5 separate regions of the Homo sapiens genome follow, and all the other regions are linked to region 5. Evidence: fine-mapped expression QTL. A gene starts in region 5. Each other region holds a variant in brackets. All regions are shown on one strand. Distances are from middle to middle.

What was found. PIP is the estimated chance that this variant, and not a neighbour inherited with it, causes the effect.
Region 1: its variant is fine-mapped to the expression of B4GALNT4 in whole blood (TOPMed, PIP above 0.99).
Region 2: its variant is fine-mapped to the expression of B4GALNT4 in testis (GTEx, PIP 0.97).
Region 3: its variant is fine-mapped to the expression of B4GALNT4 in whole blood (TOPMed, PIP above 0.99).
Region 4: its variant is fine-mapped to the expression of B4GALNT4 in whole blood (INTERVAL, PIP above 0.99).

The regions. Positions count from the first base shown.
Region 1 is chr11:395,563-401,632 of GRCh38, forward strand. It overlaps PKP3 (plakophilin 3), which reads left to right. Exons shown (of 13, transcript NM_007183.4): 2 at 1,046-1,125; 3 at 1,252-1,883; 4 at 1,977-2,100; 5 at 3,430-3,634; 6 at 4,405-4,579; 7 at 4,772-4,889; 8 at 4,973-5,143. Among named protein-coding and RNA genes, the nearest start is that of PKP3, 4.4 kb to the left of the region's middle. RefSeq lists an enhancer at 821-1,350. The variant C/G (reference allele first, on the strand shown) is at 3,673.
Region 2 is chr11:387,877-393,984 of GRCh38, forward strand. It overlaps a transcript of PKP3 not described here. Among named protein-coding and RNA genes, the nearest start is that of PKP3, 3.3 kb to the right of the region's middle. RefSeq lists an enhancer at 5,786-6,108. The variant C/T (reference allele first, on the strand shown) is at 3,173.
Region 3 is chr11:401,982-406,419 of GRCh38, forward strand. PKP3 (plakophilin 3) reads left to right here. Exons shown (of 13, transcript NM_007183.4): 9 at 1,097-1,282; 10 at 1,637-1,790; 11 at 1,962-2,154; 12 at 2,255-2,342; 13 at 2,553-2,927. The coding sequence ends at 2,588. SIGIRR (single Ig and TIR domain containing) reads right to left here. Exons shown (of 10, transcript NM_001135054.2): 9 at 4,368-4,438; 10 at 3,735-4,078. The coding sequence ends at 3,915. Among named protein-coding and RNA genes, the nearest start is that of PKP3, 10 kb to the left of the region's middle. RefSeq lists an enhancer at 3,541-4,234. The variant C/T (reference allele first, on the strand shown) is at 2,336.
Region 4 is chr11:437,449-442,318 of GRCh38, forward strand. It overlaps ANO9 (anoctamin 9), which reads right to left and starts at 4,563. Exons shown (of 23, transcript NM_001012302.3): 1 at 4,473-4,563. The coding sequence starts at 4,478. It overlaps LOC105376506 (a long non-coding RNA gene), which reads left to right. Exons shown (of 5, transcript XR_007062542.1): 3 at 1-1,303; 4 at 2,451-2,532; 5 at 3,037-3,225. It also overlaps the pseudogene RN7SL838P. RefSeq lists silencers at 4,337-4,416, 4,461-4,755 and an enhancer at 4,587-4,856. The variant C/T (reference allele first, on the strand shown) is at 3,153.
Region 5 is chr11:366,229-372,336 of GRCh38, forward strand. It overlaps B4GALNT4 (beta-1,4-N-acetyl-galactosaminyltransferase 4), which reads left to right and starts at 3,271. Exons shown (of 20, transcript NM_178537.5): 1 at 3,271-3,726; 2 at 5,881-5,984. The coding sequence starts at 3,576. RefSeq lists an enhancer at 1,804-2,342.

The DNA of each region.
Region 1 (6,070 bases), 29 kb after region 5:
GGGGGGTGGGGGTGAGGTCCCCAGGCTGGGGCGTGCCCCCACTCCGGGCTGGGCCTCACGAGCGTCAGAGGGTTAATAGCCCCGGCCCAGAAGCCCCATTAACCAGGGTGAACCTGGGGCCTCTGCCATGGGGGTGTCCCCCACAGAGCATCCAGCTCTGGGCAGAGTTGTGGGAGGGCCACGGCCCCTTTCCCTGCACCCCACCCTGAGCCCCTCAGCCAGGTCGCTCTGGTGGGCCTTCTCATGCCCCCACCATCAGCCCATCCTCTCTGCACCCATCCACGAGTCCATCCCTCTGCCCACTCACCATCCAACCATGGGACCCTGTCGTCGACGGCTGTCCCACCCCTCCATCCACCACTCTGTCCATCCTTCCAGCAGTCACAGCAGCCCTCCCATCCTCCTCCTGCCTGTCCCTCCATCCACCCTCCGCCCTCCACCCTCTGCCCACCCACCTGTCTGTCCACTCACTGTGGAGTCGGGCTGACGCAGCTGCCCTTGGCGTGTGTGTGGCTGGACGGGGTGGGTGTGGCCCCTGCCTCAGGCTCTGCCGGGTGGGACAGGGCACTGCAACAGGGCATACTGGTCCAGGGAGACAGTGTCACTCTCCTGTGACCGGGCACAGATGAGGTTTGGGCACAGGAGGGGCTCAAAAGGAGTCAGTGTGGGCCGGGGCAGGCCAGGCTGGCTTCCTGGAGGAGGCTGGGCACTGTACCATGGCAAGGATTGGAGAACTGATGTCAGAGGCCCTGGCACATTCCTCCTGGCGACCAGGAGGTCAGTGGGTGAGCGTATCTGCCCTCTCGGGTAGAGGAGGCACAGCTGGGGGGTGGGCTGTGGAAGATGGACCACCAGGGCTGACATGTGAGGAGACCAAGCCATGGCAGGAATGGGGAGGCACTGGCCCTGGTGCCCCCCTGGCCTCCCTGCCCTGGATTGGAGGCTGCTCCTAGGGTTGCCAATAGCGATGGAGTGGTGGAGAGGAGGCAGGAGGCCAGTGCTTTGCTGTGTGGCAGAGCTGGGCTACCACCGTCCCTCTCCACAGGCACATCCAGGGGGCAGTACCACACCCTGCAGGCTGGCTTCAGCTCTCGCTCTCAGGGCCTGAGTGGGGACAAGACCTCGGTGAGCGATGGGCCCAGCCCGAGGGGGACGATCTGAGCTCTGCAGTCTGGAGAGTGGGAGGCTCTGCAGCGGGCCCGGACACAGGTGAGCCCAGGCACGCCCTCACCGCCCCCTCTCGACCCACAGGGCTTCCGGCCCATCGCCAAGCCGGCCTACAGCCCAGCCTCCTGGTCCTCCCGCTCCGCCGTGGATCTGAGCTGCAGTCGGAGGCTGAGTTCAGCCCACAACGGGGGCAGCGCCTTTGGGGCCGCTGGGTACGGGGGTGCCCAGCCCACCCCTCCCATGCCCACCAGGCCCGTGTCCTTCCATGAGCGCGGTGGGGTTGGGAGCCGGGCCGACTATGACACACTCTCCCTGCGCTCGCTGCGGCTGGGGCCCGGGGGCCTGGACGACCGCTACAGCCTGGTGTCTGAGCAGCTGGAGCCCGCGGCCACCTCCACCTACAGGGCCTTTGCGTACGAGCGCCAGGCCAGCTCCAGCTCCAGCCGGGCAGGGGGGCTGGACTGGCCCGAGGCCACTGAGGTTTCCCCGAGCCGGACCATCCGTGCCCCTGCCGTGCGGACCCTGCAGCGATTCCAGAGCAGCCACCGGAGCCGCGGGGTAGGCGGGGCAGTGCCGGGGGCCGTCCTGGAGCCAGTGGCTCGAGCGCCATCTGTGCGCAGCCTCAGCCTCAGCCTGGCTGACTCGGGCCACCTGCCGGACGTGCATGGGTTCAACAGCTACGGTAGCCACCGAACCCTGCAGAGACTCAGCAGCGGGTGAGCGGCTGGGCCCGGCTCAGGGAGGGGGCTTCTACCACGGGCCCAGCCTGAACCCAAAGTTAGCCTGACCCCTGACCCCTGGCTCCGCAGTTTTGATGACATTGACCTGCCCTCAGCAGTCAAGTACCTCATGGCTTCAGACCCCAACCTGCAGGTGCTGGGAGCGGCCTACATCCAGCACAAGTGCTACAGCGATGCAGCCGCCAAGAAGCAGGTGACCACCCCGACCACCCACTCGCTGCCCCCTGGTGACCTCCTTCGTGGGCCCCACCACCTCCCACTGTCCTCTGCTCACTGAGCACCCCTCATGATCCCCAAGCTGACTGGGTAGACCCCACTCTGTCTGGAGCCCCCTCAGCAGAGGAAGAGCAGAAGGATACAATTTGGATACACCAGTATCACCTGCATCACCTCCGTACCCCCACATATACCTCATCACCTCCGTACACCCGCACACACCTGCGTCACCTCCGTACCCCCACATATACCTCATCACCTCCATACCCCCGCACACACCTCCGTCACCTCCGTACCCCCGCACACACCTGCATCACCTCCATACCCCCACACACACCTGCGTCACCTCCGTACCCCCGCACACACCTGCGTCACCTCCGTACCCCCGCACACACCTCCGTCACCTCCGTACCCCCGCACACACCTGTGTCACCTCCCTACCCCCACATATACCTCATCACCTCCGTACACCCGCACATACCTGCGTCACCTCCCTACCCCCACATATACCTCATCACCTCCGTACCCCCGCACACACCTGCGTCACCTCCCTACCCCCACATATACCTCATCACCTCCGTACACCCGCACACACCTGCGTCACCTCCCTACCCCCGCACACACCTGCGTCACCTCCGTACCCCTGCACACACCTCCGTCACCTCCGTACCCCCGCACACACCTGCGTCACCTCCCTACCCCCGCACACACCTGCGTCACCTCCGTACCCCCGCACACACCTGCGTCACCTCCCTACCCCCGCACACACCTGCGTCACCTCCGTACCCCCGCACACACCTCTGTCACCTCCCTACCCCCGCACACACCTGCATCACCTCCGTACCCCCGCACACACCTGCGTCACCTCCGTACCCCCGCACACACCTGCGTCACCTCCCTACCCCCGCACACACCTGCGTCACCTCCCTACCCCCGCACACACCTGCGTCACCTCCCTACCCCCGCACACACCTGCGTCACCTCCCTACCCCCGCACACACCTGCGTCACCTCCGTACCCCCGCACACACCTGCGTCACCTCCCTACCCCCGCACACACCTGCGTCACCTCCGTACCCCCGCACACACCTCCGTCACCTCCGTACCCCCGCACACACCTGCGTCACCTCCGTACCCCCGCACACACCTCCGTCACCTCCCTACCGCCGCACACACCTCCGTCACCTCCCTATACGGCTGCATCCCCTGCATATCTACATCTACGCACCTGGACACAGCTGCACACAGGTGCATAGTCTGCATCCATCCACATGCGTCTGTGCACCCCCATATGCCTGTGCCCGCAGGCCCGCAGCCTTCAGGCCGTGCCTAGGCTGGTGAAGCTCTTCAACCACGCCAACCAGGAAGTGCAGCGCCATGCCACAGGTGCCATGCGCAACCTCATCTACGACAACGCTGACAACAAGCTGGCCCTGGTGGAGGAGAACGGGATCTTCGAGCTGCTGCGGACACTGCGGGAGCAGGATGATGAGCTTCGCAAAAATGTCACAGGTGCTGCCTGTCCCCTCCTCCACCTGTCCTTCCTCCAC[C/G]TGCGCCCCTCTGCCTATCCCCCCTGCCTTCCTCCCCACCTGCCCCCCTCCACCTGCCCACCATCTGCCCCCCTTCTCCACCTGCCCCCTCTGCCACCTGCCCCCCTACTCCTCCTCCCCCCCTCTGCCTTACCCCCCCACCTGCCCGCCATCTGCCCCACTCCTCCACCTGCCCCCTCCTCCACCTGCCCCCTCTGCCTGTCCCCTACTCCTCCTGTCCTCCCTCTGTGTCCCCCCCACCTGGCCCCCCTCCTCCACCTGCCCCCTCTGCCTATCCCCCACCTGTCCCCCCCTCCACCTGTCCCCCTTTTCTGCCTGTCCCCCTCCTCCTGTCCCTCCTCTGCCTGTCCTCTCTCCTCCGTTCTGACCCCTCCACCTCATTCGGTTCCCCTCCGTCCCTTTGTACCTTTTGCCGGCCGTGTTTCTACTTGGGCCTCCACTGCCCGCCTCTTTCCTGGACCCCCGGCCACCCTGTCCTGTGGTTTTGTCTCCTTGGAGCCGCCTGCACTGCCAGGCCTGCTCACCACCCCACCCCCACATCTTGTCCCCTCTTGCTTGGTCCCAGCTCTATCACCTCAAATGCCACCCCAGGGTCTCCCCAGTGGGGCTCGTGGGTGAGGCACAGAACACCAGGCCAGCCCCTGGGGAGAGGCGGGACCTCTTCACACCATCCCCAGAAACGCGGAGGGGGTTGGAGGGCAGACGCTGATAGCAGCCTCCCCCGTCCTCCAGGGATCCTGTGGAACCTTTCATCCAGCGACCACCTGAAGGACCGCCTGGCCAGAGACACGCTGGAGCAGCTCACAGACCTGGTGTTGAGCCCCCTGTCGGGGGCTGGGGGTCCCCCCCTCATCCAGCAGAACGCCTCGGAGGCAGAGATCTTCTACAACGCCACCGGCTTCCTCAGGTGCGCCAGCCTCGGGCAGCGGGGTGGGGATTGCAGGCGCGGGTCACTGTGGGGACTCCGCCTGGCCTGGCGTTCGCAGCCCACACACCGCACGCCTCGCGCTGGGGATGGGCGTGCGAGGGCCCACGATGGGTTGGGGCAAGGCCCGGGATGCGGGGTCCCTGGGGGGCTCTGATCCACCTCGGTCCCCAGGAACCTCAGCTCAGCCTCTCAGGCCACTCGCCAGAAGATGCGGGAGTGCCACGGGCTGGTGGACGCCCTGGTCACCTCTATCAACCACGCCCTGGACGCGGGCAAATGCGAGGACAAGGTGAGGGGCGCGGTGTGGAGGAGGGGCCGTGCCCCCGGGCCGCCGCTCTGACCCGCGCCCCTGCCCCGCGCCCCCGCCCGCAGAGCGTGGAGAACGCGGTGTGCGTCCTGCGGAACCTGTCCTACCGCCTCTACGACGAGATGCCGCCGTCCGCGCTGCAGCGGCTGGAGGGTCGCGGCCGCAGGGACCTGGCGGGGGCGCCGCCGGGAGAGGTCGTGGGCTGCTTCACGCCGCAGAGCCGGCGGCTGCGCGAGGTGGGCACCAGCCTGAGCGGGGCGTGGGGTGGGTGCTGCGACCCCGGCCCCGCTGACCCCGGCCCCGCTCACCCCCGCCCCGCTCACCCCCGCCCCGCTCACCCCGCCCCGCTCACCCCGGACCCCGCTCACCCCCGCCCCGCTCACCCCCGACCCCGCTCACACCCGCCCCGCTCACCCCCGCCCCGCTCACCCCCGCCCCGCTCACCCCGGACCCCGCTCACCCCCGCCCCGCTCACCCCCGGCCCCGCTCACACCCGCCCCGCTCACCCCCGCCCCGCTCACCCCGGACCCCGCTCACCCCGGACCCCGCTCACACCCGCCCCGCTCACACCCGGCCCCGCTCACCCCCGCCCCGCTCACCCCCGGCCCGCTCACACCCGGCCCCGCTCACACCCGGCCCCGCTCACACCCGCCCCGCTCACCCCCGGCCCCGCTCACACCTGCCCCGCTCACACCCGGCCCCGCTCACACCCGGCCCCGCTCACACCCGGCCCGCTCACACCCGCCCCGCTCACCCCCGGCCCCGCTCACACCCGGCCCCGTTCACACCCGCCCCGCTCACACCCGCCCCGCTCACCCCCGGCCCGCTCACACCCGCCCCGCTCACCCCCGGCCCGCTCACACCCGGCCCCGCTCACACCCGGCCCCGCTCACACCCGCCCCGCTCACCCCCGGCCCCGCTCACACCCGCCCCGCTCACACCCGGCCCCGCTCACACCCGGCCCGCTCACACCCGCCCCGCTCACACCCGCCCCGCTCACACCCGCCCCGCTCACCCCCGGCCCCGCTCACCCCCGGCCCCGTTCACACCCGCCCCGCTCACACCCGCCCCGCTCACCCCCGGCCCGCTCACCCCCGGCCCCGCTCACACCCGGCCCCGCTCACACCCGCCCCGCTCACACCCGGCCCCGCTCACACCCGGCC
Region 2 (6,108 bases), 22 kb after region 5:
AGCTTTCCCCAGCCTAGAAATCCTCATTTTAGGCCATTCTGAGTCAAATTAAGGGGGATCTTGGCAAGTTTTCAGATGGCCCTGACAGATACATGGAGGCTTTCCAGAACTTAACCCAAGTATTTGAGCTCTCCTGGAAGGATATCATGTTACTTCTGAATCAAACCCTGACTGCTGAAAAGCAGGCCACCCCGCAAGCGGCAGAGAATTTGGGGGATGAGCTGTATATCTTATATAGGGCCAGGGAAGAAGAGAAGCTTTATCCAATTGGATGAATAGCAGTACCATTGGAGGACCCTAAATGGGACCCCAGTGATAAAATGGGAGAATGGAGGATGAAACACTTTCAGATGTGATACTGGAGGGCTTGTGAGGGAATGGGACTGGGCTTCTCATTGCACTTGGCTGGAGGGCTTATGAGAGAAAGGGGCTGGGCCTCTTGATTGCACCAGGCTGTCCATGGTAGAGCAGGGATTGGCCCCACTGCCTTCCTGGGGGATGGCAGGGGCCTTGGTGAAGTGTGCCTCTCTGTCTCCTGACTCAGTCAATGAACGGCTGGTCCTAGGGGATGAGGAGATGAGTTCATTGCACAGGCGGCCCCTGATGTCAGAAGGAGGATGCGGGAATGGGCTGTGGGACCAGATGGTACTTTGGGGGCATCCTGGGAGGGGCCACCTCAGTTTTTTCCAGTGGGAACCGGGAGGAAGTCCAGAAAAGAGAGAGGAGATATAGGAAGAAGGCAAAGGCTCTTAACAGCTGCCCTGTGGGCTCATGGACCCCAGGATCCCTAGATACACCTGTGACTGCTGCAAATGTGTTGGGCTAGGGCCCCACAGGAGGGTTTCCAGACAGTGCAGGGAGGAGGGTCCTTCATGAGGGTTTCCACACAGTGCAGGGAGGAGGGTCCTTCAGGAGGGTTTCCACACAGTGCAGGGAGGAGGGTCCTTCAGGAGGGTTTCCACACAGTGCAGGGAGGAGGGTCCTTCAGGAGGCTTTCCAGACAGTCCTGGGAGGAGGGTCCTTCAGGAGGGGCTTTCCAGACAGTGCAGGGAGGAGGGTCCTTCAGGAGGGGCTTTCCAGACAGTGCAGGGAGGCCACCTTGACCCTGTCCAGTTTGCCTTGGGGACTGTAGGGTCCAGCCCTACGGGGCTTAGTGGGTGTTCTCCCCATGTGCGGAGACCAGAGATTGTAATAAATAAAGGCACAAGACAAAGAGATAAAGAGAAAGCAGCTGGGCCTGGGGGACCACTACCATCAAGACGCGGAGACCAGTAGTGCCCTGAACGGCTGGGCGCGCTGATATTTATTGCATACAAGACAAGGGGGCAGGATAAGGAGGGTGAATCTTCTAAGTGATAAGGTGAAGCAAGTCACCTTACGGTGACCCTTCCCTCTTAGGTAGCCGAAGTAGAGAGGAAAGGCAGCATACATCAGTGTTGTCTTCTATGCAGTTATAAGAACGATCAAAGACTTTAAGACTTTCACTATTTCTTCTACCGCTATCTACTACGAACTTCAAAGAGGAACCAGGAGTACGGGAGGAGCATGAAAGTGGACAAGGAGTGTGATCATTCAAGCACCACAGGGAGGGGGTTAGGCCTCCGGATGACTGCGGGCCAGGCCTGGAGAATATCCAGCCTCCCACAAGAAGCTGGTGGAGCAGAGTGTTCCCCGACCTCTCCAAGGAAAGGAGACTCCCTTTCGCGGTCGGCTAAGGAACGGGTGCCTTCCCAGGCACTCGCGTTACCGCTTGACCAAGGAGCCCTCAAGCGGCCCTTATGTTGGCGTGACAGAGGGCTCACCTCTTGCCTTCTAGGTCACTTCTCACAACGTCCCTTCAGCACCTGACCCTATACCCACCGCTTATTCCTAGGTTATATAGTAATGGAACAAAGAGTAATATTAAAAGCTAATGACTAATAATGTTTATAATAATGATTGATAATTGTCCATGAGCATCTCTATATCTAATTTGTATTATGACTATTCTTATTCTATTTTCTTTATTATACTGAAACAGTTTGTGCCTTCAGTCTCTTGCCTGGGCACCTGGGTCATCCTCCGCCCACAGGGGACCGCTGGAGGACAGACCATCCCTGGAGACGTGGGTTGCCGGACCTCGGGCCAGTCTCCCAAATGGTACAGCAGGACTGATGGGTCCCCAGCCTCCTCTCCCCAGCTACAGTCGTCCAGACCACCATTGCCATCCAGGAACCCCAGGGATTGTAGGGGTCAAGGGAAGGAGGATGGACCTCGTCCTGGACTCCAGAGTTCTCCTCTCCAATCTGGGCCCCCCTCCCCATCTCTTGGCACAACTGTGAGTGGCATCTCAGGCCTCCTTCCTCCACCATGTCAGGAATCAACACAGTCTTGTGAATACAGGGACCTCTCCATGGAGGGGTTAGCTTTTTTCCTTTCAGAAGGCACCTTCTTAGGCCAGGCCCCCGATTCCCAGGACTTCCCTCCTCCGCCTTGTTTGAGGAGGACCTGGCCCCACAGCGCCACCTGTTTATAACAGGAAAGCAACAGGAGCGGCCGCCACCTGTTAGCAGCTGCAATTTGGTGAGGAACACTTGGGGCTAACTGAATGGGTCCACACACCGTCCTGAGGCCAGACCCCAGGAGAACCCCCGGGAGATGCCCCGCCTGCCTCAGACAGACGCCCCCTTCCCCAGAGGAGCGCCGGGGTCCTGAGGCCAGACCCCAGGAGAACCCCCGGGAGATGCCCCGCCTGCCTCAGACAGACGCCCCCTTCCCCAGAGGAGCGCCGGGGTCCTGAGGCCAGACCCCAGGAGAACCCCCGGGAGATGCCCCGCCTGCCTCAGACAGACGCCCCCTTCCCCAGAGGAGCGCCGGGGTCCTGAGGCCAGACCCCAGGAGAACCCCCGGGAGATGCCCCGCCTGCCTCAGACAGACGCCCCCTTCCCCAGAGGAGCGCCGGGGTCCTGAGGCCAGACCCCAGGAGAACCCCCGGGAGATGCCCCGCCTGCCTCAGACAGACGCCCCCTTCCCCAGAGGAGCGCCGGGGTCCTGAGGCCAGACCCCAGGAGAACCCCCGGGAGATGCCCCGCCTGCCTCAGACAGACGCCCCCTTCCCCAGAGGAGCGCCGGGGGCATAGCAAGAGCCCGGGACTCGTCTGATGAACGAACAAGTAGTGGACGGACAGATGGA[C/T]AGACTGACCAACAGGCCGGCAGTGGACGGGGTGTGTGCAGATGAAAGGTGTCCCCCCCAAGAGCCTACAGGGGCCATACCCCTCAGCTACTTTCCATGCCAAGGACCAAGGCCAGAGACCTCAGAGCTGCCCCAGCCACAGGCGCGGGGCAGGGGCCACACTCCACAAGGTGAGGGGTGGTGCCCATGGGCAGCCGGGCAGGCTCCGTGGAGGGGCTGGACTTGGCTGGAGCCCAAGTCAGAAGGTTTGCAAGCGTGGGCGCCAACAGGAAGCGCCAGGACGCTTGCCTCTGGGTGAGCTGTGCCCCCACGCCGGGTCCATCAACCACCAAGGGGCTCCCCTAATGCACTCCGAACCCCGCCCCTGCAGGCGGTGGGACCTGAGGCAGCCTCCCAAGCCTCTCTGTGCACCGGCTCACTCCTGAATTCGGCTTTGACTATATTTTGCTTCCAACGTCCTCACACCTTTCTCCCCAGATCCTCCCCCTTCTGCTCCTTAAGACGACCACCCCAACCCCCTCCACCCACGCAGGCTCTGCCCTGGAGGTTTGTCTTCTGTGCCCTCCCACAACTCCGGGCACGCACCTGGCAGCTCTGCCCACGACCTGGGCCCAGCCGACCTTCTCTGTGAGCGCCTCCCGTGCCCCCCACGCTGAGCCCACCATGCCCCGAAGCCCTCCTGCGCCCTCTCCCACCGCCTCTTGGGAGGTGACTGACAGGCCACACCCCACCCAGGACCCATCTAAGAGCAGCGCTCACTCACCCTTCGAGGCCCTCAGGTTCCAGGCTCTCAACCTGATTGTGCACCCAAGCGGCCCGAGGCTCCGTGCAGATTCCGGGCCCCACAGACAACCGCTTCCTCCAGGAAGCCTACCGTCAAGCCCCCCTCCAGGGCTCCTGTGTCAGGAGCTGGCTCCAGGGAGAGTGCGACCCTCAGGGCTGGTCACAGGGATCAGATGAGACTCCGCCGAGCCTGGAGCTGGAAGCTGCAGCGGTGGCCTAGCAGGCATCGCCATCCGTCTGGCCCGGCCGCAGTGAGGGAAGGTGCACCCCAGATTCCTGGCTTTGCCAAAACTGTGCCTGGCGGGCACCACGCATCCTCAGGGAGGCGCCGCAGCTCTGGGGGGGGGCACCCACAGCCCTCTCTGCCAAGGGGAGGAGGGAAGGTGGGCAGAGTCGGCCCTGGGGGCCCTGCAGGCCGCGGGGTACCGGCGTTCCCATCATAGCTCCAGCCGCACGGAAGCCCCTTCACTGAGTCCTCTTGTGAGCCCTTCGGCCTGACTGGGCTGCAGAGGCCCTCCAGGCTGGCTTCCCCCTCATGCCGCCCAGCCTGGCCCCTGCAGGGCCCCAGGTGGGCCTGGGGTGGACCTGGGTGCAGGGCGGGACCCAGCCCATGCCAGGCACATACCTCCAGGCCCGCTCTGCGCCGCACAAACTTGTCTCCCAGGATTTTTCCACACGAAACCTGTCTCCCAGGGAATCAGCCAGTCCGATGAGCTGGGCGTTCCCACCCCGCCCTCCGAGGCCCCCACAGTCCTGTCCCCGCCGCAGAGGCTGCCCCGCACGCGCCGGGCCAGGGATGGAGTCCTGGACACCTCGGCCGTCAGCAGTGGCCTCTGGGATGAGCTGGGAGGCTGGCGGGATCCGGACCACGAGCCGGGTAGGTCTCCCACCCCTTCCCCACCACCCCGACCCCACCTGGTGGCCCCAGCCCGGGCCTCACCCATCCTTTCAGTGGACCTTCCCCTCCCCCTTTAACCCCCCACGCTGACCTCCGACTCCTACTCTCCAGCTTCCTCCCCTCAGAACTGACCTCACCCTTAATGCTGCCTCCTAACCCTGACCCGGCCCTCACGCCAGACCCCTGCCCCAGCCCCATTAAGGCAAAAATCTTCCAGGGACGGAGCTAGGGGGCAAGGGTCTGCCCTGGAGGAGAGCCCAGAGCCAGGGTCCAGGGTCCAGGGAGAAGCAGAGGCTGTCCGATGAGCTCGTGAGAGAAGCCCAGAGGTTGTCATAGATGTTCAGCTCCCACCCCCAGCCCTCCTAGGCTTATCCCCACCCCCATCTACCAGGGGCTTGTCCCAGAGGCTAGAGGGCCTCAGAGCCCATTTGCTGGCTGTGGTGCTAGAAGGAGACCTTCTGGGCACAAGCCCTGCTTGGTCCAGGGCCCCCCCACCAGGGGCCCCCCACTACCCCACCCCCACCAGGGGCCCCCCACCCTCGCTCCCTCTCCATCCAGGCCTCTGCTCTTCCAGACCCCTGGTTCTTCCCTGCACACCCGCTCCTGCCCCAGCCTGACATGCGCTGACAGGAGTGCAGGCCCTCTGAGTCAACCCCCTGGGGCGGCCCCGCCCCCCTGCACCCTGACTCATGTGCTGGGAACGGCCTCCCACCCCAGGGCCTGGGGTGCAGGAGCAGTGGTGCCAGGGTCCCAGAAGCCAGAGAGGGTTTTGGAGGCCTCTGTAGGGGGTGAGGGGGTCCTGGGGGTGAGTTCCAGGGTCTGCAGGCTTCGGGGGAGGGCCGGTCCATCCACATGCTTCCTGGTGCGGAGGGGGCTCGCTGGATTCCAAGGACCAGGGCCAGGGCCTCCATGGAGTCCCGTTGGACCCTAAAGCTCTGTCCCTCCAGCCTTTGTCCTGATCCCTGGCACTGACCCCTGACTCCCGACAGTGTCTCCTGCCAACCCTTCCTAGGCCTCATCCCCACCTCACCAGGAAGGCTGGGCTACCATGGAGGCTGGCTGATTCTTGGAGCTACCTAGGGCCCTAGACCCCCAGGGACTGGGGCACCCTCCCCTTCATGCTGGGGGTGGCAGGACATAGGCCCCCCGCAGGCCCCCTGCCCTTCCCTGACACTCAGGACACAGAGGGCCCCTCTGTCCCAGCCCCACGACAAAGGGCCCGGTCTGGCCTTTACAGGCTGAGAACAAGAAGGAC
Region 3 (4,438 bases), 35 kb after region 5:
CCGCTCACCCCCGGCTCCACTGACCCCGGCCCCGCTCACCCCGGACCCCGCTCACCCCCGACCCCCGGCCCCGCTCACCCCCGGCTCCACTGACCCCGGCCCCGCTCACCCCGGACCCCGCTCACCCCCGACCCCCGGCCCCGCTCACCCCCGGCTCCACTGACCCCGGCCCCGCTCACCCCGACCCCGCTCACCCCAGACCCCCGGCCCCGCTCACCCCCGGCTCCACTGACCCCGGCCCCGCTCACCCCGGACCCCGCTCACCCCCGACCCCCGGCCCCGCTCACCCCCGGCTCCACTGACCCCGGCCCCGCTCACCCCGGACCCCGCTCACCCCCGACCCCCGGCCCCGCTCACCCCCGACCCCCGGCCCCGCTCACCCCCGGCTCCACTGACCCCGGCCCCGCTCACCCCGGACCCCGCTCACCCCCGACCCCCGGCCCCGCTCACCCCCGGCTCCACTGACCCCGGCCCCGCTCACCCCGGACCCCGCTCACCCCCGACCCCCGGCCCCGCTCACCCCCGGCTCCACTGACCCCGGCCCCGCTCACCCCGACCCCGCTCACCCCCGACCCCCGGCCCCGCTCACCCCCGGCCCCGCTCACCCCGACCCCGCTCACCCCCGACCCCCGGCCCCGCTCACCCCCGACCCGCTCACCCCGACCCCGCTCACCCCCGACCCCCGGCCCCGCTCACCCCCGACCCGCTCACCCCGACCCCGCTCACCCCCGCCCCGCTCACCCCTGCCCCGCTCACCCCGGGCCCCGCTCACCCCCGGCCCCGCTCACCCCGACCCCGCTCACCCCCGACCCCCGGCCCCGCTCACCCCCGGCCCCGCTCACCCCCGCCCCGCTCACCCCCGCCCCGCTCACCCCGGGACCCGCTCACCCCGACCCCGCTCACCCCGGACCCCGCTCACCCCCGCCCCGCTCACCCCGGACCCCGCTCACCCCCGACCCCCGGCCCCGCTCACCCCCGCCCCGCTCACCCCGGACCCCGCTCACCCCCGCCCCACTCACACCCGACCCGCTCACCCCGACCCGCTCACCCCGACCCGCTCACCCCGACCCCGCCGACTCCTCCCCGCCCTGCGCAGCTGCCCCTCGCCGCCGATGCGCTCACCTTCGCGGAGGTGTCCAAGGACCCCAAGGGCCTCGAGTGGCTGTGGAGCCCCCAGATCGTGGGGCTGTACAACCGGCTGCTGCAGCGCTGCGAGCTCAACCGGCACACGACGGAGGCGGCCGCCGGGGCGCTGCAGAACATCACGGCAGGCGACCGCAGGGTGGGGCACCCAACCCAGACCCGAGGGGGTCCCAGGGGTTCATGCGGTTGAGGGGGGGACAGAGGAGGGAGAGGGAGGGGAGGAGGAAGGGGACGCCCAGGGTCCGCGGAGCCTCGGAGGTCAGCGTCCCGGTGGCGCAGGCCTTGGGCCTTGGGAGGATGGAAGTCCTGCCCTGGGTTTGAAGGGAGGCACCTGATCCGGGCTGCGGCTGATTCCCCCCGGCTGGGGGGCAAAGGCAGAAGCAGAGGCCCCCCTGAGGGTGGCGAGAGGATGCAGCGACCCCATTGTGGCAGGACCCCCTCAGGTGAGGGTCTGAGGCCTCCGGGTCACGGCTCACACCCTCCCTCCCCACAGTGGGCGGGGGTGCTGAGCCGCCTGGCCCTGGAGCAGGAGCGTATTCTGAACCCCCTGCTAGACCGTGTCAGGACCGCCGACCACCACCAGCTGCGCTCACTGACTGGCCTCATCCGAAACCTGTCTCGGAACGCTAGGAACAAGGACGAGATGTGTGAGTCGGGCAGCCCCTCGTCCCTGCCCTGCTGGACCCACATGTCAATTTTGTCTTTAAGTGTGGGCTTCAGACCACTGGGGCCAGTCCAGCTCCCTGGGGGAGGCAGGGGACCCCAGGTGCCCAGGTGGCCAGGAGTAGGGGTGCAGACTGACCCCCGGCCTCCCACAGCCACGAAGGTGGTGAGCCACCTGATCGAGAAGCTGCCGGGCAGCGTGGGTGAGAAGTCGCCCCCAGCCGAGGTGCTGGTCAACATCATAGCTGTGCTCAACAACCTGGTGGTGGCCAGCCCCATCGCTGCCCGAGACCTGCTGTATTTTGACGGACTCCGAAAGCTCATCTTCATCAAGAAGAAGCGGGACAGGTAGGGGCCGACCCAGCCGTGCAGCAGCCTGGTCAGGGGTCCTCCCAGTCCACCCTGCTTTCTGGCTGTGTGTCCCCTCCTGACTGCCCTCCACCCTCAGCCCCGACAGTGAGAAGTCCTCCCGGGCAGCATCCAGCCTCCTGGCCAACCTGTGGCAGTACAACAAGCTCCACCGTGACTT[C/T]CGGGCGGTACGTTTCCCGAGCCCAGGGCAAGCAGGGACCCGGGTGCAGGGCATGGGACGCCGGGGGAGGGTCAGTGAAGAGGCCCATGGGAGGATGGAGACCAGGGACCCAGAGAGGAAGGGTCCGGGCCACACCCAGCACACTGCAGGAGGGACAGCGGGCAGAGGGCCACATGGGCAGACATGCACCCTGACCTTGGGCCTCTCTCCACTGTAGAAGGGCTATCGGAAGGAGGACTTCCTGGGCCCATAGGTGAAGCCTTCTGGAGGAGAAGGTGACGTGGCCCAGCGTCCAAGGGACAGACTCAGCTCCAGGCTGCTTGGCAGCCCAGCCTGGAGGAGAAGGCTAATGACGGAGGGGCCCCTCGCTGGGGCCCCTGTGTGCATCTTTGAGGGTCCTGGGCCACCAGGAGGGGCAGGGTCTTATAGCTGGGGACTTGGCTTCCGCAGGGCAGGGGGTGGGGCAGGGCTCAAGGCTGCTCTGGTGTATGGGGTGGTGACCCAGTCACATTGGCAGAGGTGGGGGTTGGCTGTGGCCTGGCAGTATCTTGGGATAGCCAGCACTGGGAATAAAGATGGCCATGAACAGTCACTGCCCTGTGTCCTTCCATGGCTGGCCCGACCCTGTGGCTGGCAGCATGATCCTGGGACTCAAGGTGTCCCCAGGCACCCCCTGCCCCTGAGGACACCCACCCCCTGGGCTCACACACAAGCCTCCCAAGATCAGAGGACATAGGACATGGAGAGCCCAGCAGAGGGACAGCTGGCACCTCAGGGCCGAGAGGGGACAGGGTGGACAGCGGGTGCACCACAGGCACAGACGGAGCAGAGCTGGGGGCCTCGAGAGTAGAGGGGTGACTGGAGTAGGAACAGGGTGGCTGCCTCGTGGGCTACACTCATGCGGCAAATGAACCCAACTCCTCCGCCGCCCACCCTGGGCCTGGAGTTGCCTGGACCAGGGGCTCTCACACTGGCTGCCTGAGGTTTGGGGTCCAGTGGGCTCTCGGACACCCCCATCCATCTCACCCAGAGCCAGGCCATTTAGTTGTGAAGTTACTGTGGATATTCTTAAAACAGAAAGTTTCTGTGAAGCTCAGAACTTGAGGTCTCTAAGGAGCCTGCCCCCATCCAGGATCTGCCTGCATGGGAAGGGTCTAGGAAGAGTCACGTCCCCAACCAGGGACCAGGCAAGGAGGCCCAAGGAGGCTACTGTAAGCACGGGACACGCCTGAGCTGGCTTAGGAAGGGGGATGGAGAGAGGGCAGATTTGGTGATTTGGCGGGTGGGGATGAGAGAGGGAGGGGTGGGGATGAGAGAGGAGGGGTGGAAGGCTGAGAGAGCCGCAGAGGGAAGCCGAATCCGAAACCTTCCGCCGCAAGGGAGGAGACCGAGGCCCCAGCAGAATCCAAAAGGACTTTATTTTCTGGCACTGGGAGGCGCCCTGAGGCCACAGCCTTTTCCCAGGGCTGCTGGCAGGGTCCCAGGGCTGCTGGCAGGGGTTGTGGTCCTGTTGAGCAGAGGAGCGACGCCGCTGCCCTGGCCCCCGCTGTCCCTATGATCCTGCACTCTGGGGTGGGAGCTACATATCATCCTTGGACACCAGGCAGTAGAAGTCTGTGCGGGCACTGTAGTTTCGCGAGCCGAGATCCGAGACGTCCACTTCGCTGCTCCGGCTCTCTCCCAGCGAGACCCCACTGGTGTGCGGTGGAGCTGATGGCTCTCCAAAGACAGGCCCCCGGACACCTGGGGTGGGGAGACCGAGACGCCTGAGGTGGCCACCCACAGCCTTGGCCCAGACCCACTGCCAGGGGCTGCCCCTGCTCACCCCCTGCTGTGATGGCCTGTGAGGCCCAGGAAGTTCCCAGGCAGACCGAGGGCCGAGCACCTCCAGGGCAGAGGCCGTGCAGGGGCTCCCGGTGCCGGGAAGAGTCCTCAACACCTGGAGCCCCTCCAGGCCCTGTGCCCTGTGCCTGCCCCCACTCCGCCCTGTGCTGAGCTTCTCCAGTTGGGGAGTGGGGCTGGGCGGGCATACCCAGGTCGCCCTCAGGGTCCGGGTCCACCTCTGAGTCCAGGGCCCGGCCCTCAGGGACTCGGCCTCGAAGA
Region 4 (4,870 bases), 71 kb after region 5:
TCTGTCCTATCCTAGACCAGTAGTTCTTCCTGCCTCAATCAACCCTTCCTCTGACTCCCTCCTTGGCCTTCCCGACAGCCCACGGACAGATACCTGCACTCAGGCGTGGCCTGCCACACTGAAACTTCTCCCCCGTCCTGGGTTAGAGGAGAAACCTTCATCCTCCGACAGATATGCAGGAAGGGGCGTGGCACCTGCCCAGGCAGGAGAGGCACCTCTGTCTCAGCGCAGAGGGCAGCCTCCCTGGGGGGGACTGGTGGTCTGGGGGACGTGGGCATCACGGCTCCAGCTCTGCAGCTTGCCTCCGTAGGGGCCCGGGAAGTGTTGTGTTGGAGGGATTCATGGGAGAATGGCCCCTCACATGCCTGGCTTCAGACCCAGGATGAGGGTCCCTCCTCTGCCCAGAACCCCAGCTCCTCTGGCAGAGGCTGAAATTAGAGACCCCCTCACATCAGCCTGGGCCGAAAGTTGAAAGCCGGCAGGATAAGCCCAGACCCCTGAGAAGGAAGGGACGAGGCAGGGACCCCAGACCAGGCAGGACTTTCGGAGAAGCCTGGGAGAGGGGACTGTCCCTGGGGAACATTCTCAAAGGTGGGGGTGGGAAGCCATCGTTCACCCCAGAAATGAGGCACAGAAACCCCCTCCCCACCAAAGACACCGTGCAGCACTGGGGTGATGACCCCACGCCTCTGCAAACAGCAGGATCAGCCTCCCCTGGGGAATGGGGTGCAAAGCCCCCATCACTGACGTGGGCTGACAGGGAGCCCTCCCCCCAGGGCAGAGCTACACGCACACCTGGGGCGTGCCAGCCCCTGGCTGCCCTTAGCTGCTCCCTCGGACAAGGCAGAAGCACTAGGGCTGCCAGGTGTAGCCCCCGCCGACACACACAGCCAGACAGGTGGAGTCCCCCCAACACACACAGCCAGACAGGTGTAGCCCCCCCCCGACTCACACAGCCAGATAGGTGTAGCCCCCCTGACACACACAGCCAGACAGGTGTAGCCACCCCCTGACACACACAGCCAGGCAGGTGTAGCCCCCCCAACACACACAGCCAGACAGGCCTCAGGCTCCGAGACTCTGCTGCAGAACACTGGGCCCACCAGCCTCCAGGACCGGGCCGTCCATCTGTCCATCCGTCTCCAGGGCCAGTGTTTACGGAGCCACACCCACCGGCCCATCCCCCGGGCCACAGCCACCAGCCTACAGGACCAGGCCATCCATCTGTCCATCCGTCTCCAGGGCCAGTGTTTACGGACCACGGGAGCCTGGCTTCTCCACACCACCCTCGGGGTCTTCACAGGTGAGGGCTGGACCACCTGAAGTCACCTCCACTTCCAGCCATGCAGACTGTTCGGTTTATCCACAGTGAGATGTCTGGGACCCCCATGTCCCCAGTCCATGGGCCCCACCTCCGGGAAACTATGTATGGGCCCACAGGCTTCCAGCTCCCAGGGTAGGGACAGGGGCTGTCCCTACACACTCAGTCTGAGGGCCTCTGAAGCTTCAGCCAGCCTTGCCATCTGCAAACCCAGAGAGGGAGGCCGGCTCTGGGTGGACAGCCGGCCAGGCCCTAGCTCTGACGCCACCGAAACACCCCAGGCCTCAGTTTCCTCGTCTGTACAACAGGGTGTCCTCACCCCAGCCCCCAGGTCACCTCAGCGACGTGCAGACACAGGAAGAAGGTGGACAGAACCACACACTGTTCTCCCCCATCCTTCCTGTCCCACAGCCCTCACAGGTGACACACCCAGTACTCCAGGGCCCCAGGGAGTTTGTGGGGGGCTCTTGGCACCCCCATTGTGGGCATAGGCCAGCGTCCAGTGGGCAAGCCCCTGGTTCCCAGTGAGGAAGCTTCTGGAGACACTGTAGCCTGCAGGAGACCCTCCCTCCCAAGGGCTGGAGTGTGAGGACAGAGCTGGGGGTCCTGCCCATCCATCCTCTTCCCAGTCCAGCCTCCAGGTTGGGGGCAGGCAGAGGAGATGGTTGTGCAGATATGACCCCACCCTACTCCTGAGAGGCCTGGCCAGGGGGTCCCATGACGCACATCCCCCCAGCTGTGCATGAGAAGGAGCAGGCCTGGCCAGGGGGTCCCACGACGCACATCCCCCCAGCTGTGCATGGGAAGGTGTTTGGGCCTCATCTCCTCCTGAGGTCACGTCAAGCCTCTTGGCCGGTGCCCTGAGCCCTCTGGGATCTGGCCCTTGAGAACTTTACAGTTTCGTCATCCACAGAGGGTCCCCTTCTGCCCCACCGCAGTCCCAAGCATGGAGAGGCCCACCTTGTGAGCCACAGCGTCTCGCCTCTGCCCAGCCCACGCATCCTCTGAGCAAACCCTCCCCAGCTGGCTCTGCGCTCCTGAAGCCAGTCTTCTGCCCACCCCCCGGCCCCTCCAGCTGTCCAGTCTGTCATCTGTCAGTTCACCCATCCGTGTGCCCGTCCATCCCCAGACACTGACGGAGCGACCTGCGTGCAGCCCTCCCAGGCAGTGCGTGGCGTTCGTGGACGCAGGGGCGGGGGCCTACTTGGCAGGTGAGGAGGCATGGAGCTTGGCATTGTAGGGCAAGAGGTTGGCAAAAGGTGAGAAAATGGGGGCAGCATTCCCGGGAGAAAGAACATGTGTGGGCACGCCCTGAGAATCAGGGTGCAGTTGGTGTCTGGGACTCAGCAGTCAGCACCTCCCAGGGACTCAGCACTCAGCACCTCCAAGGAGGACTTGGTAGCTACTACTCCTGGTGACTCAGCACTCGGCACCTACGGAAACTGAGTCCAGGGACTCAGTCCTTGGTACTTCAGCTTTGCAGAAGCATAAAGGGCAAGAAGGGAGCTGCCAGAAGGGGAGGCTGGAGGTTGGCAGAGGCCAATCAGGGGAGGCTGCTAGGCTTCTTGGCCAAATGGAGAGCTTGGACTTCAGCAGGGGGCAGTGGGGAGCCATGGAAGGGGTTAGAGCAGAGGAAAGGCACGCCCAGATCCAGCCTGGAGCTGGGACTAGCAAGTCCTCCCCATGTCTGCAACTGTCCTTTTTGATCACCACAGGAGTTTTGACCTGCTCCGTTTCCGACCTGGACCGGTTCACCCCTCCTTAGGCAACTTGGTGGTCCCCTGCTCCTGGGAGGTCACCATACTGATGTGCGGACAGCCAGTCAGCCTAA[C/T]ACACTACAGCCCAGAACTCCCAGGCTCGAGCAACCCTCCTGCCTCAGCCTCCGGAGTAGCTGGGACCGCAGGCTCATGCCACCACGCCCGGGTTCCAGCAGTCCTCCTGCCTCAGCCTCCCGAGTAGCTGGGAGCGCAGGCACGCGCCACCACGCCCGGGTTCGAGCAGTCCTCCTGCCTCAGCCTCCTGAGTAGCTGAGACTGCAGGTGCATGCCACGACGCCCGGGTTCAAGCAATCCTCTTGCCTCAGCTTCCGGAGTAGCCGGGACCACAGGCATGCGCCACCAGGCCCGGCTGCAACTGTCTTTTTTGAAGGACTGATGCTCTCACTTCCAACAAACCAGGTGCTGCTTCTCCCAACCCAACCCCTGGCCAGCCCCAAGTCTCTCCTCTAACCCCCAGCATGGGAGGAAGGGGCTGGCAGAGGGGACCCTGAGCTCAGGCTAAGGGGCATCAGGTGCTGGGCTGAGCAGCCAGGGTGTCAGACCTGGATGTGGAGGGCCGAGGAGAGCCCTGGGCGGAGATGGAGCAAGAGGCCGCCGGCGCAGCCCACACGTGGAGGCCCTGGCAGGCCGAGAGGGAGGCTGGTTTCACTCCACACCTCACCACTGCCTCCTCCCTGGGCCGACCAGGTGCTGACCTGCCCAGGTGTTGGCCCTGGCCCCAGGTGACCTCTTCACTGGCAGAGGGGAGAAAGGATGTCTTTCTACGTGTTCACCTGCACTCCCTCCCCCAGAATCGGAATCCAGCAGCAGCAGTCAGCGCCCACCCCCAGAATCGGAATCCAGCAGCAGCAGTCGGCCCCCACCTGTGCTGGGCGGGGTCCTTGGGGAGCAGAGAGCCCACAGCCCGCCGGCCACTCTGCAGCTCCCAACCCTGGGGCAGCCTGCCTGGTGCCCACAGCCCGCTCCCCCTTAGGGGCCAGCTGCAAGGCAAAGCTGCCAGGTCTGGGGTCCTCAGCAGCAGCCCCCGCCTCGGTGGGCAGGCCCTCTCCATCTCGTGTTCAGGACTCTGGTAGAGGTTCCTGGCCCCACACACTAGCTGAGAGCCCAGCCCTGGTGCCCTCAGAATCCCGGGCTGGAGGGAGGAACGCCGCCCGCCTCCAGCACTTCCAACCCCCAGCGTGCCCCAGGAGTCCAGGAGGCAGCTTAGCTGAGCCGGGCGGTCACCCTCGCCTGACCGGGCAGCCTGCAGGGACCCCCCCCACACACACAGGCGCCTTCCAGGTGGGGCTGGCGGGGGGCTGGGGCCGGGGGCCCCAGGTGTGGGCGTGGCTGGGGGCCTTGAAGGTGTGGACCCTTTTGAGCGCAGGACTCACCTGCATGCTGGCTGTGGCCGGAGTTCCAGCTGGGGTTTGGCGGCCAGGAGAGTGGCTGCCAGCGGCGGGTGCTCCTACCTGACTTCCGCGTGGGGCTCGCCCCTCCCTCCTCCTCCTCCAGCGTCCTGCAGCTGCCGCGCCTGGGTGTAGTCGGGGCGGAGCCAGCATCCAGGCCAGGAGAGTACCCCAGCCCCTGGAGCCTGGGACACCTTCCTGGAGCCCAGATGGCGGGTCAGGGGCCAGAGGGGAATTCCTAGGCTGGAGTTCCCGGGAAGGGGGTTTCCACTGTGAGATGGGTCTCATGACACCTGGTCCTAGGGGGAAGCAGGATGGCACAGAGCCCCTGACAGAGCCAGCACCAACGCCCCCACTTGCCTTGCCTCTCTCACCCCCGCTCA
Region 5 (6,108 bases):
TTGCAGAAAACACCACTGGAAAACCAGAACCACCCCATAAGGCAAAACTGCTAACAGCATAGGCCTTTTGGGAAGGAACGTTTGGGTCACCCCACCAGACAGTGAACCACGACCAGCAGAGGTGCTTGCAGAGGGCAAAGGGACCACGCAGGAGTGACGGAAGAGCGTGGCCATAAAGACTGTACCAGCCACGACCTGGTGACCGTAGAAGTGAGTACTTCTTATCCTCACACAAGTCACACTTGTACTGACATTATCCGTTCTTCCTGCTTTTTTCCTCTTCCATTGCCCTCCTAGCTGCATAAAATGCGTTAACAACAGTTAACTTTACATTTCATCTCAGTATTTGTGTCATCCAACCCCCAACATGCACTTTGCAGTGTCAAGTGTTAAACGCTCTTAGAGAAACTAGAAGAACGAGGATCGTCTTCTCAAATGTGGATAACATGACACGAACCTTTTGTTCAGTCCCTTCTGGTTGGAATATTTGCATCATGTTACGTAGAAGCATGACTTTGTTTTTTGCTTTATTTGGAAGTTAAATGTGTTTTTTAAAAGAAGTGTGCGTCTGTGCTGAGTTGTCAAGAGGAGGAACCTGCCAGGTTGTTCTCTCTTTTTTTTTTTTGAGACCGAGTCTCGCTCTGTCACCCAGGCTGGAGTGCAGTGGCGCGATCTCGGCTCACTGCAAGCTCCGCCTCCCGGGTTCACGCCATTCTCCTGCCTCAGCCTCCGAGTAGCTGGGACTACAGGCGCCCGCCGCCACGCCCGGCTAATTTTTTGTATTTTCAGTACAGACAGGGTTTCACCGTGTTAGCCAGGATGGTCTCGATCTCCTGACCTCGTGATCCGCCCGCCTCGGCCTCCCAAAGTGCTGGGATTACAGGCGTGAGCCACCGCGCCCGGCCAGGTTGTTCTCTTATTCTAAGCTGGAGACCCATTTCCCAGAACCTTCTCCTCTGTGGCTGGGTCACACCGAAGTGAGGCGGTGGCCGTTCTTCTCCAGAAGGGGCCGAGACGGATGTGGTAGCATATGGAGCATCTGCGTCCGGCAGATCCCAGCTCGCCCCTCAATTGTACCTACTATGCTTTGGATCCACAGGGGACACCCTCTGACTGTGGACCCATGAAGTGTCCCAAACACGTCTCTCCCGACATTGCCAACACTTGCCTTCTAAGAACCTGTTTACGGGTCAGGCCAGCCGTTGCCTCCCCAGAGAGCGACCCTGGAGCGGGAGCCGGCCTCCCTCCATCACCCAGCTCATCTCCTTCACGTCACTCACCACCAGCAAAGCGACTATGCGTTCACTGGTCTGTCCCTGCCTAGTAACATGTAAACTCCATGAAAGGAGGGCCCTTTTCTGTCTTGCTCACTGCTGTGTCCCCTAAGTCCCTGGCTCGTCAGGACACTAGAATACTAGGTAGCGTCCACTGGCTGGATGAATGTGCCTAGGATGGGGTGCCATGCAGTGGAAAGAGGGAAAGCATTAGACGCACAGCCAGACAGATGCACATAGAAAATATGGGACTTGGAGAAACAGAATGAGACACATAAAAGAGCACCACTGGCCGGGCACAGTGGCTCACGCCTGGAATCCCAGCACTTTGGGAGGCCAAGGCGGGAGGATCACTTGAGCCCAGGAGTTCAACGCCAGCCCGGGACACATGGTGAGACCCTGAATCTGTTAAAAAAAAAAATACAAAAAATTAGTCCGGCATGGTGATGCATGCCTGTAGTCCCAGCTCCTCAAGAACCTGAAGTGGGAGGATCGCTTGAGCCCAGGAGGTCAAGGCTGCTGTGAGCTGAGATTGCACCACTGCACTCTAGCCTCAGAGACACAGTGAGACCCTGTCTCAAAAAGGGGTGGGGCACTATATTTTAATGAATATGCAGATAACAGAAATATGAAAAGTGGACTGCAGGAGGCAGGAGATGAGGAGCTGATGGGGTGGGGGAAGGTTTGAGAGACCGGGTGTTGTTTAAGGGCCGGTATGAACAGCAGGATGTAACCAGCTTGCTTCTGTGCTCAGAAGTTAGGGGAGGAGGATGGAGGGGAAGGAGGGAAGGAGTTGAGGTCTTAAGAAGGCAACTTCTGGGCAATCTTCCATTGTGAGGTGGGGTCCACGTCCCCACAACCCACGAACTTGGGTGGCCGTGCGGCATGTGGCAAACCTGAGGGGTGACTCCAAGATGCTTCACTCTGTGTGCTGGACCGGGAGGCTGCCCCTGGCAGCTGAGCCTGCAGGCGCTCTGGCCAACCACCCGGGGTGAGCCCAGCCATTCCTGCCGAGGGTGCACTGGCTTGGGGCAGAAGTCTCTGGATGGCTCCAGCCTGTCCCGCGGAGCCGGCCCCACCACTCACGTCTTCCCACCGGAGGCCAGCACCTCGAGGAGCAGAGAGGAGCTGTCCCCGAGTGCCCTGAGTTCCTGACCCACAGGACACAGGAACACAGGAACGCTGCTGTTGGACAGCACTGAAGCTGGGCGGTTTGCTACACACCCAGAGACAGCTGAGCAGACAGAGGGAGAAGAGTAGGGTCACGCTGGCAGCTGGACAAGGGAAGTACTGGGGGGACAGAGGGACTGGCAGGGGTTGGTGCAGACCAGGTGAGAAAGGGCACGAAGTGGGACAAGGTCCCGGTGAGAGGCACGACACTGTCACCTGCCTCAGGCCGCGCTCGGTGGGGCGGGGGCCACCAGCTGAGGCCCCTCCTGCCGCCCAGACAGCTCGGCCCCCTGCGGCCCCAGCCCTGCAGGCTGAGATCCCGCAACGACTCCCACCCCTGGGCTGAAGCCGGTGCTTGGGCCCCCCCGCCCCCCGGCCTCTCTCGCCCGCCCCCATTCCCCGCCCCCCAGGACCCCGGGTCCCTCCCCTCCCTCCTCCGTGTTGTCCGCCTGCAGTCCTTCGGGTCACTGTTCTCGGGAGGCCGCCCCGCCCCACAGTCAGGCTGTGCCCATCCCCCGCCGCCCCCCACGGTCCCCGAGCCCCAGCGCTTCCCAGCCCCGCGTCTGTGTGCCGCGCCCCCGCGCTCCGTGGCCCAGGTGGACGCGCGCCCCGCGCCCCGCATCCCTGTCCGTCCCGCACCCCTCACCCCCCGCCCCGCACCCTCCGCACCCCCCGCCCCGCCCCGCCTCCCCTCGCCCCGCCTCCTCCGCCCCGCACCCCGCGCCCCGCCCCGCCTTCCCGCGCCCCGCACCCCTCCCCGCGCGCCGCCATTGGCTCCCCGCGGCCTGGCTCGGTCCGATTGGTTCCGCGCGCGCGGCCGGGGCCCGATCCGCGGTGGCAGCCGTGGATGCTGTTCGGTCCCGCCGCCGCCCCAGGAGCGCGGAGCCGGGAGCGGCCGGGCGGGGGGCACCGCGAGGAGCCGCCCCCGCCGCCCACCCCGGGCCCGCGGCCGAGGGCGGCCTGGGGGGGTCGCGGCCGCACCCGGTGGCCGCGCACGGCGGACAAAGGACCATGCGGGGCCGCGGGCGCTGAGCGCGGCGGGGCGGGCCGGGGATGCGGCGCGGGGCGGGCGGGGGCCGGGGGCTGCAGCGGCGCCGCTGAGCGCGGCCTGGGGCGGGCGCGGCGGCCGCGATGCCGCGGCTCCCGGTGAAGAAGATCCGTAAGCAGATGAAGCTGCTGCTGCTGCTGCTGCTGCTGAGCTGCGCCGCGTGGCTCACCTACGTGCACCTGGGCCTGGTGCGCCAGGGACGCGCGCTGCGCCAGCGCCTGGGCTACGGGCGAGGTACGGCGCGGGGGGCGCGGGGGGCGCGGGGGGCGGGGGCGGCGCGGGGGGCGCGGGGGGCGCGGGCGGCGCGGGGGGCGCGGGCGGCGCGGGCGGCGGGGGCCCCGGGGCGCGGGCCGGGCCTCCCACCGCACAGAGGTCTCGGCTGGGCCCGACCCTCCCGGAGACCCCGCCCGCTGTTCTCCGCTCTGCGATTTGGGGGGAGGGGGCGCGGTTCGGCTCGGCCCGGACGCTCGATGACGTCGGCAGTGACGCGCGCGACCCTCCCAGAGAGGGTCCCTGACTCTGGGATCTGGCTTGGATCCGGTAGTGAGGGGCTGACGGTGGGCTCCTGGGGAAGTCTCTGCCCCTAGACCCTGCTGAGGCTTCCAAGAGGCCTTCTCAGGCCTCGCCTCCACCCCCTGCCCGCTTAGCAGGGCCTCAGTTTCCCTGTGTGCTGGGGACCCGGGCCGGGGCTTGCTGAAGTGGCCGGTGCAGCTGGGACGCTTCCCGGCGGGGGCGCCTTCGGTGAACTGTGCCAGTGTTGTGGGGGTCCATGCGTAGGGATGGGGCCCAGCTTGGGGAGCCTGGCGTAAACTCTCCCAACCCCAACCCACAAACAAAGCAGATGGGGTCACGGTGAGCCAGCCGGGGTAGGGCCTCCTGGAGATGGTGATCTTTGACATACACCTTTGGGGGAAAGAGCATTCCAGACAGGAAGGCGCAGATGAAAGCCTGGCGGTGGGGTTGGGGGAGAAGGTGGGGCAGAATGCCCCCTCTGGAGGAGGGAGGTTAGTGCCATGCCCAGACCAGGAGAGACCCCAGCTGGCTGCCTCTGAGCCTTTTCCAGGGAGCCAGGTGTCCTGAGGGGGCAGAACAATGATACTGGCTGGGGACTCCTGGGCCACTCCACCTGCCAAAGCCCCTGTGTTCTCTTCCTGTACCGGGACGCCTGGACCCACACAGGCCAAGGGTCTGGGGCTTGTCCCAACCCACATACCTCACAGCTTCCACACCCTCAAGAGACCCCCGATACTGCTGAATCCCTAAAAAGCCCCACCCCAGCTATCAGCAGACAGGGCAGGATCCACAGCTGGCCCAGTGACACAGAACAAAACCAGCCCCCTCTGCAGGCTCCTCTGTGGTTTTCTGAGCAGCGCAGGGGTCTAAGCCCAACCAGGAGGGGGCGGAGGCATAGGGACCCCTCTTCCAAGGACCCCTTGAGGCTAAGCCAGCTCCGCCCCAGGGCACCTGTACACTTGCTACCTCTGAGGCTAGGGCCAGGACCAGAGGAGCCCAACAGCTGCCCAGGGAGAGGGCGAGTGAGCAGACTGTTCTGTCGGGGGACCTGGGGCCCAAGTCAGGGGAGCCCTGGGGGACCCTTCCCAGATCTGCCTGTGGACATCTCTACTGCCTCCCCACAAGCCTGGGCAGGCCAGCTCTGCACCCCAGCCCTCTCCACTTCCTGGACCTCCCTAAGCTGAGGACCTAGACATCCCCACTGCAGCCCCAGGGGGTTCCACGCCCTGGGATCTGAGCATCTGTAGGGATGCTTCTCTTCACCCCAATTCTGCCCCTCCTGGTCCTCCTACCCAAGGACACTCAATCCAGGGCCACCCTCTGCTCCAGGGCCATGCCTGGGCGTCAGCATCCATGCCTGTTCCTCAGTCCAGACTTTGAGAGCTCAAATCCTTCAGGAGAGACTACAGTCCCTGGCACTAACCCTGAGTTCTCAGTTCTGGTAAGGGAGGCAGACGTGGAACACTCCAGCACACAGAGAAAGTGCTGAGGGCACAGGGCAGTCCTGGGGTCTTCCTGGAGGCAGAGCCACTCAACAAGAATGGCCAGATGGAGGTGCATGTGGGTGCCTACACACGCCAGCTGGCCCACCCGGCTTTCCTCCCTCACACCTGCTGGAGGTTGGGAAGAGCCTGCTGGAAGGCTCAGCCTGGGCTGCCCCACCAGAGGTGGGGTGTAGAAGAAGTTGCCTTGCTGGGGGGAGGGGCATCTGGTGGCAGAGGAAGCAGATGAGAAGGAGAGGCTTTAGTGAGAGACACCACAGCCTGCCTGCCCTGCTCTGGCCATGTGGGTCCCTGGCCCAGCTGAACCCAGCAGCAGGCAGAATGGCCTTGGAGAGAGCCTGGGCCCGAGACAGGCCTCATGTGCCACCTGCAGATGGTGAGAAGCTGACCAGTGAGACCGACGGCCGGGGGGTCCACGCTGCGCCATCCACACAGAGGGCTGAGGACTCCAGTGAGAGCCGTGAAGAGGAGCAAGCGGTGAGCAGAGCCCTGGGGAGAACACGTGTGCACGGAGACGAGACCCCGAAGCCACTTGTGTGTTGGTGTCTTGAGAACCTGTCCATTCTGGAGGACGCAGCAGGGGGCATGAGACACAGGACAT